Linked DNA regions of Homo sapiens: region 2 is linked to region 1. Evidence: fine-mapped expression QTL. A gene starts in region 1. The other region holds a variant in brackets. All regions are shown on one strand. Distances are between the middles of the regions.

The links. PIP is the estimated chance that this variant, and not a neighbour inherited with it, causes the effect. A credible set is the group of variants that fine-mapping cannot tell apart.
Region 2: its variant is the best candidate, but not a certain one, in a credible set for the expression of ANKLE2 in lymphoblastoid cells (GEUVADIS, PIP 0.61).

What each region holds. Positions count from the first base shown.
Region 1 is chr12:132,759,170-132,763,557 of GRCh38, forward strand. It overlaps ANKLE2 (ankyrin repeat and LEM domain containing 2), which reads right to left and starts at 2,663. Exons shown (of 13, transcript NM_015114.3): 1 at 2,449-2,663. The coding sequence starts at 2,629. RefSeq lists enhancers at 2,009-2,877, 3,232-3,331 and silencers at 2,112-2,701, 2,792-3,081.
Region 2 is chr12:132,650,519-132,654,906 of GRCh38, forward strand. All of the region lies in intron 29 of POLE (DNA polymerase epsilon, catalytic subunit), which reads right to left. Among named protein-coding and RNA genes, the nearest start is that of P2RX2, 34 kb to the left of the region's middle. The variant C/CTT (reference allele first, on the strand shown) is at 1,796.

The DNA.
Region 1 (4,388 bases):
GGCACCCCGGGGCACCCACGTGGCAGAGTGGATCATGCAGAGTGGCACCCCGGGGCACCCACGTGGCAGAGAGGATCGCTGCGGAGTGGCACCCCGGGGTATCAGTGTGCAAGTTTAACCATTTGAGTTATTTCAGTTTCTGGTAATTACAAATAAAGTTGCTATGAACATTAAATATGGGTTTTTGTGTGAAAATAGTTTTCATTTGTCTAATAAAAGCTCAGGAATGCAGGGCAGGTTTAACTTCCTAAAAACCTGCCAGGCTGATTCCCAGAGTAGCTGCACCACTTACCGTCCCCACCTGCAATGCACGAGGCCCAGTTTCTCTAAATCTCTGCTGACTATATATATGTATACTATATGTGCTATATGATATACACGTATCATATGCCATGATATACGTATATTATACATCATATATAAAAACATATTTTTATATAAAATAAATCAGTATTTTTTTATTTCAGCCATTCTCAAAACACCACCCTCACCCGCCGCCACCTTGTCCGCAGCTCTGCCTGGATGATGCCGCTGGTGACAGTAACAGCACTCAGAGGTGCTTAACACATACCAAGTGCTGCACTTACCCAACTCCCAAAAAAGCCTAACCAGGTATCACTATCATCCCCATTCCTAAAAGAGCAGGCTGAAAACAGGTTAAGCCCACAGCAATAAGTGGTAGGGCCCGGTGCGATGGCTCACACCTGTAATCCCAGCATTTTGGGAAGCTGAGGCAGGTGGATCACCTGAGGTCAGGAATTCGAGACCATCCTGGCCAACATGGTGAAACCCCGTCTCTATTAAAAATACAAAAATTAGCCGGGCGTGGTGGCAGGCGCCTGTAATCCCAGCTACTCGGGAGGCTGATGCAGGAGAATCGCTTGAACCCGGGAGGCGGAGCTTGCAGTGAGCCGAGATCGCGCCACTGCACTCCAGCCTGGGCCACAGGGCGAGACTACATTTCAAAAAAAAAAAAAAAAAAAAGTGGTAGGGCCGAGACACAAACTCACACAATTGGACAGGAATCCCCACTCAATCATCAGAAAGCACCTCTCCGCAGTGACTAACAGTCTGACAATTTAGAGTAAAAACAAACTCAGTTTCTCCCACTAGTCTTGCAACATGCTTCGGACACCAGGTATGTGGGGATTTTCTCCCCACAAATCACGCAGGTCGTCAGTTCTGCAGTGGACACAGGCTGGGTGTCGTCTGTCATCCTAATTCAGTCATCTATTCTGACAGCGTCTTCCTGGAGATACCAGCAGACCCCCACAGGTTAACGGCTCAGCCCCGCAAGACTGCCCCCCACTTCCAGTGCCCAGGTTGTTTGACCTGCGCTTGGGACCGACGGGGCGTAACCCGGTGACCTCCTCAGGTTGCGGTAATTTGCTAGAGTGGCTCCCGAACTCACAGACATGTTTTACTTACACTTACCAGCAGAGTATAAAGGATTACAAAGAATACAGGTGAAGAGATGCGTGACGTAAAACCGGGGGGAAGCGCTTGGAAATTCAGGGCCTCTCTGGGCACCGCCTCCAGGAACCCCCACGTACTATCTGGAAGCTCCCTGAACCCAGCCCTTTTGGGTTTTTACAGGAACTTCATTTCACAGGCGTGATTCATCAGCCACTGGTGATCAACGCAACCTTCACCCCTCTCTCCTCCCCAGAGGTTGGGGGTGGGGCTGAAAGTCCCCAGAACCTCTAACCCTGCCTTGGTCTTTCCTGCGACCAGCCCCATCCAGAAGCTCCCTAGGGGCTGCCGGCCACCAGTCCACTCAGCCTACAAAAGACATCACTTTGGAGGTTCCCGGGATTTCAAGAGTTGTATGCCAGGAAAAGGGGATGGAGCTGAAATACACAGTTCACTGTATCAGTTACCTCAAACTTAAAACGACCAAAACCCACCTCTGATCTCCACATCACCCAGACCCGACAGTCTACCGCAAAGCAATAAATGGCCACCTTCTCCCTCTTCCTCTGGCCCCAAACCCCTGAGTTACATTTGCCTTTTCCGTCTCTGCCTTATGTTCCATGACCAGTAACCGCAATGGCTTCACGTTCCAAACACATCCGGGACCCAGGGGTTTCCTCCCCGCGCCGCCCTCCTTTGGGCCATCCCTCCCCAGGTCTCGAGAGACCGCAGCAAGAGTCTCCGCTAACGCCTCGCCGGGCCCCCGCCGCCTTCCCCGGAGGCTGCTCCAGGGCCCGGGAAAGCTCTCACCCCCGAACCCGGCGTGGCCCCTCCGCCCCCGGCCCGGGAAGCCAAGTCCCCGCAACTGCCCTTTCCGCGGCCGGAATGGCCTTTCCCGACCGGCCCTGGTTTCCCCGGCCGCCTCGCCCAACTGCTGCCGGCTCCAGGGGCGCGGCCGGGACCCCAGGCCCGAGGAGGGCGTCGGGGCGGGGAAGGGGCCAGGGTGCGGGGACCCAGCGACCGCCTGGGCCTTACCTGAGGCGGGGGCGGCGGCCGCGCTTGGCGGAGGAACTGGGGTCCCGCTGCGGCCCAGACCTCCCGGCCGCGGGCCCAGCCGCCGCACCAGCCACCGCACAGCGATCAGCAGCACCGAGGCGCCCAGCAGCTCCCAGGCCAGCGCCGCCCACTCGGCCGCCGCCAGCCGCGGCCACAGCATCGCCGCCGCCCGGGCCGCAGCCGCCGAGAAGCCCGCGCCCCGCGCCGCGCCCGTCCCAGGACCCCGCGCCGGGCTGCCCGCGCCCTGCCTGACGGCGCCGCGCTCGAGGCGGCCGGGGCGGCGCGGGGGACACGGACGGCGGCCCCGCTCGCGGAGGCCCGGCGAGGGCGCGGCCCCGGCCCTGGGACCCAAGCGGGCGGGAACGGGCGAGCGGACGGGCGGGCGCGGCAGGCGGGGCGCGGGCAGCCCGACGCGGGGTCCTGGGACCGGCGAGGCGCGGGGAGCGCAATGTGCTGGCGGGGGCCGGGGCTGGGGCCCGGGGAGGCCACCAGGGCGGGGCCGGGCGCGGGGCGGCGCTTCTTCGCGCCTCCCGGCCCCGGCCTGGCGTCCGTGGGGCGCTGTGCGTCTCCGAGAACGAAGCGGCCTCCGGGTTCGTGTGCTCCGAGCCCGAGTACTGTTTGCGGCCGTCGTCCCGTCCTGGAGCAGGAGTGAGGAAGCGCCTCTCACTCCCCCGCGAACCCGCAGAACAGGCCGCCGGCGCTATGGAGACCGGCGGAGCTTCCCGCTCCTTCACCAAGGGGCCCTGACGCGCAGTTGAAAGCGCGGATTTTGCCGGGCGCGGCGGCTGCGTCCGGAGTCCCAGCGCCTTGGGAGGCGAGGCGGGAGGATCCCCACGGCCCGGGAGCTCGAGACCAGCCCGGGCAAATATTTTGAAAGTCATGGTAAAAGCCGCAATTACTTTTGCACCAACCTAATAGTGAGACCCTGTCTCGAAAAAGGGAAGGAGGATTTTACTGTATGTAATTTAGATGTTTTATTTATTTTTTGATGCGGTGTCTTGCTCTGTCGCCCAGGCTGAAGTGCAGTGGCGCGATCTCGGCTCACTGCAGCCTCCGCCTCCTGGGCTCAAGCGATTCTCCTGCCTCAGCCTCCCAAGTAGCTGGGATTACAGGTGCCCACCACCACGCCTGGCTAATTTTTGCATGTTTAGTAGAGACGGGGTTTCCTCATGTTGGCCAGACTGGTCTCGAATTCTTGATGTCAAGTGATCCACCAGCCTCGGCCTCCCAAAGTGCTGGGATTACAGGCGTGAGCCACCGCGCCCCGCCTAATTTAGATATTATTAAATGAAAATGAAAGACCTGAAAAATATAATTGATATCCTTGGTTAAAAACATAATTGATCTGAGCGAGGTGGCTCAGGTCTGTAGTCTCAGCAACTCTGGAGCGTGAGGGGTGATGGTAGTTTCAGTCCGGGAGTTCGAGGCTGCCATGAGCGTGATCTCGCCTGTGAATAGCCACTGCACGCCAGCCTGACCAACATAGCAAGACCCCATCTCTTAAAAAATATCATTGGATGGTACTAATGGTTGGTTGGGCACTACAGAAGAAAGGGTCAGTAATTTTGAAGATGGATGAAATGGAAATTCAAACCACGATGAGATGCTGCTTGAAATCCACCAGAATGGCTAAAATTTAAAAATTGGCAATATCAAATTTTGCTGGCAAGAGCAAACACTGAGTTAACCACCTTGGAAAATAGTGAGGCAGTTTCTTTCAAAGTTAAACGTACACCTCTGCTGTATTCTGAGTGTCTGTCCCCAGCGTTCGTATGTTGAAACCCTAACCCCCCTTGGCCGGGCGTGGTGGCTCACGCCTGTAATCCCAGCACTTTGGGAGGCCGAGGCGGGCAGATCACGAGGTCAGGAGATCGAGACCATCCTGGCTAACACGGTGAAACCCAGTCTCTACTAAAAAA
Region 2 (4,388 bases), 110 kb before region 1:
GTGGAAGGATCACTTGAGCCTAGGAGGTAGGGGTTGCAGTGAGCCAAGGTTGCGCCACTGCATTCCAGCCTGGGCGAGAGGGTGAGACCCTCTTTCAAAAAAAAAGTGAAAAGATCAAACCGAAAAATAAAACGTCACTCAATACCACCAATAAGTAAATCTTTGCATTTTGCCATGTTTGCTCCAGAATGCTTTTTGTAAGAAAGAAAATATTGCAAATAATGGGTACAGCCCTCTTCTGTCTGCCCCCACACACCTTTAAATTTTTACCACATGTCCACAGACACATGCCACAGCTGTAAGTTTTAACCTAAATAGTAACATGTGGGACACATCTGACTGCAACTTGTTTCCTTTTTTTTTTTTTTTTTTTTTGAGACAGAATCTCACTCTGTTGTCCAGGCTGGAGCGCAATGGCACGATCTCATCTCACTGCAACCTCGCCTCCTGGGTTCAAGCAATTCTGCCTCAGCCTCCCAAGAAGCTAGGATTACAGGCACCTGCCACCAAGCCCGGCTAATTTTTTGTTGTATTTTTAGTAAAGATGGGGTTTCACCATGTTGGCCAGGCTGGTCTCGAACTCCTGACCTCAAGTGATCCACCCACCTCAGCCTTCCAAAGTGTTGAGATTACAGGCGTGAGCCACATGCCTGTCCCTGCAACTTGTTTCTTTATTCAGCCATGTATTTTTGAGACTGACACCGGGTGAAACATGCACATATGGTTCGTTCATTGTAACTGATGTGAAATGATTTATCATATAAACACATCAGCCTACCTACCCATGACTTTGCAAATGAAGAATGACAAGCGCCTACTTTTTCAAAACTACAAACTGTGACTCAATGACCATCTCTGTATGTGTTGCCTGGTCCCGGAGAACAACCACCTCCACCTCTAGCACCAGGGATTTCCTACTTCCCACAATCTTGCTACTTGATGCCACCACACTTACTTGCCTTCAGTGTGACCTGCTATCTAAATACATCATGCTGCATTTACCTCATCAACAGTAAGGCTGAACATCTTGGCCCTGTGCAGGCAGCTCCCAAAATGGCCCAACGACCCCCACTTCCTGGTGTTCACACCCTGTGTGACTCCTTCCCTGAGTGGGGGTGGGACCCGGTGACTTGCCCGTAATGAACAGATTCCAGCAAAAGTCATGGAATGCCACTCCTGAGAGCAGCTATAAAACACTGTGGCTTCTGCCTGGCTGGCACTCTCTCAAAAGTCCAGTGCCATGCTGTGAGCTGTCCTGTGAAGAGCCCCATGGAGCAGGGGACTAAGGATAACGTCCAGACAAAGGCCAAGGAGGAACCGAGTCCTGCCATCCCCATGGGAGGGAGCTCGGAAGTGGCTCCTTCTCCAGTGGAGCCCTCGGATACACGAGTGCATTTAAGTTGCTAAGTTTTGGGGTTACTTGCTATGCAGCAATAGATAGCTAACACGTTTATGAGCCATTTCTAACTTTTATACATTCTAAACATCTTCAAAATGTGACTCAGGCCTTTGTTTCATGGTGACTTCTGTGCTACATGTAAGTTTGTGTGTGTTGACTTCCTATCAGGAAAGTTTTCAAACATACACGAAAGCACAGTAATGAGCTCCCATGTTCTTATCACCAGTGTCAACAATTATCAACATTCTGCCTTTCTTGTCACAGACTACACAAGATTTAACTTTTAATTAATTGATCATTCTTTCCCTTTGTGATGTTTTTCACATGTGCCTTAAAAAAGCCCTTCCCACCCCAGCATCATAGTCTCCTGAGTTGTTTACCAAAGATTGTAGTTTC[C/CTT]TTTTTTTTTTTTTTTTTTTTTTTAAAGACACAGGGGTCTCGCTCTGTCACCTAGGCTGGAGTGCAGTGGTCATCTTGGCTCACCGCAGCCTCAACCTCCCAGGCTCAAGTGATCCTCCCACCTCAGCCTCCCAAGTAGCTGGGACTACAGGCATGCACAACCATGCCTAATGTTGTGCCGGATTTTTTTTGTAGAGACGAGACCTCCCTATGTTGCCCAGGCTCGTCTGGAACTTCTGGGCTCAACTGATCCTCCTTCCTTGGACTCCCAAAGCACTGCAATTACAGGCATGAGCCATCACACTCAGCCTTAGTTTCACACTCAGTGTGATACAACAACTTACTTCTCCAAATATGAAAAACCATTTTCACCAGCATCACTCACTGCAGTCCACTCTCTCCTTAACGATCTGTGACCTACCAACTTCCGACTAACAGGGGAGTCTGTTTCTAGGCTCCCAATCGGCTCTACTGCTCTCCTCTCATCTTGTCAAGATGCCATGATAGTGTGTCTCGTTACATAGTAAGATCAACGTGCCCTCCTTATTCTTCAAAATTCTTTGGTTATTCTTATCCTTACCCTTTATATGAATTTTAGGATTCGTCTGTCAAGTTCTATCCAAAAAGCTTTTGGCAGATTCTTTTTTATTGGAATTACACTGAATTTTATGAATTAATATGGGGCAAACTGCCATATTTTAATACTGAGTCCTTTCATCTGTAAAGATGGTACCTCTTTTTGTTACTTAGGTAAATTTTTATATGTTCAATAAAGTTGTGTATAGGCCAGGCATGGTGGCTCACACCTGTAATCCCAGTGCTTTGGGGGGGGCCCAGGCAGGAGGATCACTTGAGCCCAAGAGTTTAAGATCAGCCTGGGCAACAGTGAGACCCAGCCTCTACAAAAAATACATAGCCAGGTGTGGTGGTGCACACTTGCAGTCTCAGCTACTCAGGAGGCTGAGGTGGGAGGATAACGTGAGATTAAGAGTTCTAGGCTGTAGGGAGCCATGATCTTGCCACCGCACTCTAGCCTGGGTGACAAAGGAAGACCATGTCTCAAAAAGAAAAAAGTTGTGTAATTTTTTCTGTAAAAGTCTTACACACATTGTTACCATGAATTTATTCCTTAGTACATTATTTATTGCTATTGTAAATGGTATCTTTCAAAAAATATTTTGTTTCTAGTATAAATGAAAGCAATAGACTTTTATATCTTACCTTGGTATCTAATTGTTGCTGAAATACATATAAGTTAACACAAAATCTAGGTTTCCTTACATTTTCTGTTAACAAATTACATCGCCTGTAAATAATAAGTTGATGTCTCCCTTTTCAATCCTTAATTCTTTTTCTGGTTTAATTATGCTGGCTAGGATCTCCAAACTGTTTTGAACAGAAGCAGTGGTTAACAGGCATCCATTTCTTACTCCTTACTTCAATGCTTCCAGTGTTTTGTGGTTAAGTATGAGGTCTGCTGTTAGGTTTCAAGAACACTTTATCAGGTTAAGAAACATCTCATCTATTCTGATTTTGATTGTTCAAACTTTAACATGAGCAGATGTTAAAGTTTTACCGCATGTTGTTTCTGCATCTATTGGAGATGATCTTACGAGCCTTCTCCTTTAATGATGAATTAGTGGATTTCTCCCAAGAAAAACTAACCTGGCAAATTCTAAAATTAAACAGTGCTTGCTATTCCCAGCATAAGTCCTAGTTGGTCATATTGTTATTGTTCATGTATGTTGATATTTTTTCATCTATTGTTCATGGCCCGTAACTTTCCTTTCCTGTTTTCAATTATGTTACCAAAGTAACAAGGATTGCCAAGGTTACCAAATGAGCTAAGGGTTTTTTTTTTCCTTTTTCTCTTAAAAATCATTTGGGTTTGATGTTTCTTTTACACTTATTTTTTTTCGTCTCTTTTTTTTTTCTTTTTGTGGAGAACGGGGTCTCGCTATATTGCCCAGGCAGGTCTCGAACTCCTGGGCTCAAGCTATCCTCCCGCCTCTGCCTCCCTGAGAGCTGGGATTACAGGTGTGAGCCACTGCGCCTGGCCTGTTTCTTTTTAAGTGTCAATTTCTGTAATGGTTAAAGTTCTATTCAGGTTTTTATTACTTCTTAGGTCAGTGCATAACTTGAGGATACTGTCCGTTCCATCTATGTTTTCCAACTGTTTAGCAGAAAATGGGAATCCTTCCATTTTTTTAGGCTTTACTATATCTATAATGATGTCTGTTTTCATTAAAATAAAAAACTCTGTCCTGAAAAAGATGTGACCAGCCAGGACAACATGACAAAACCTTGTCTCTACAAAAAATTACAAAAATTAGCTGGATGTGGTGGTGTGCGCCTATAGTCCCAGCTATGCAGGAGGCTGAGGCAGGTGGATCAATTGAGCCTGGGAGGTCAAGGCTGCAGTGAGCCATGACTGCGCCACTGTACTCCAGCCTGGGTGACACAATGAGACCCTGTCTCAAAAGAAAAGAAAAAGATGTGACTATTTTCCTAAGTCTTTTCAAAGAACAACATTTTGGTTGTATTGTTTGTTTCACTCATTCTGGCTCAATTTTGTAACCTCTTTCTTTTCTTT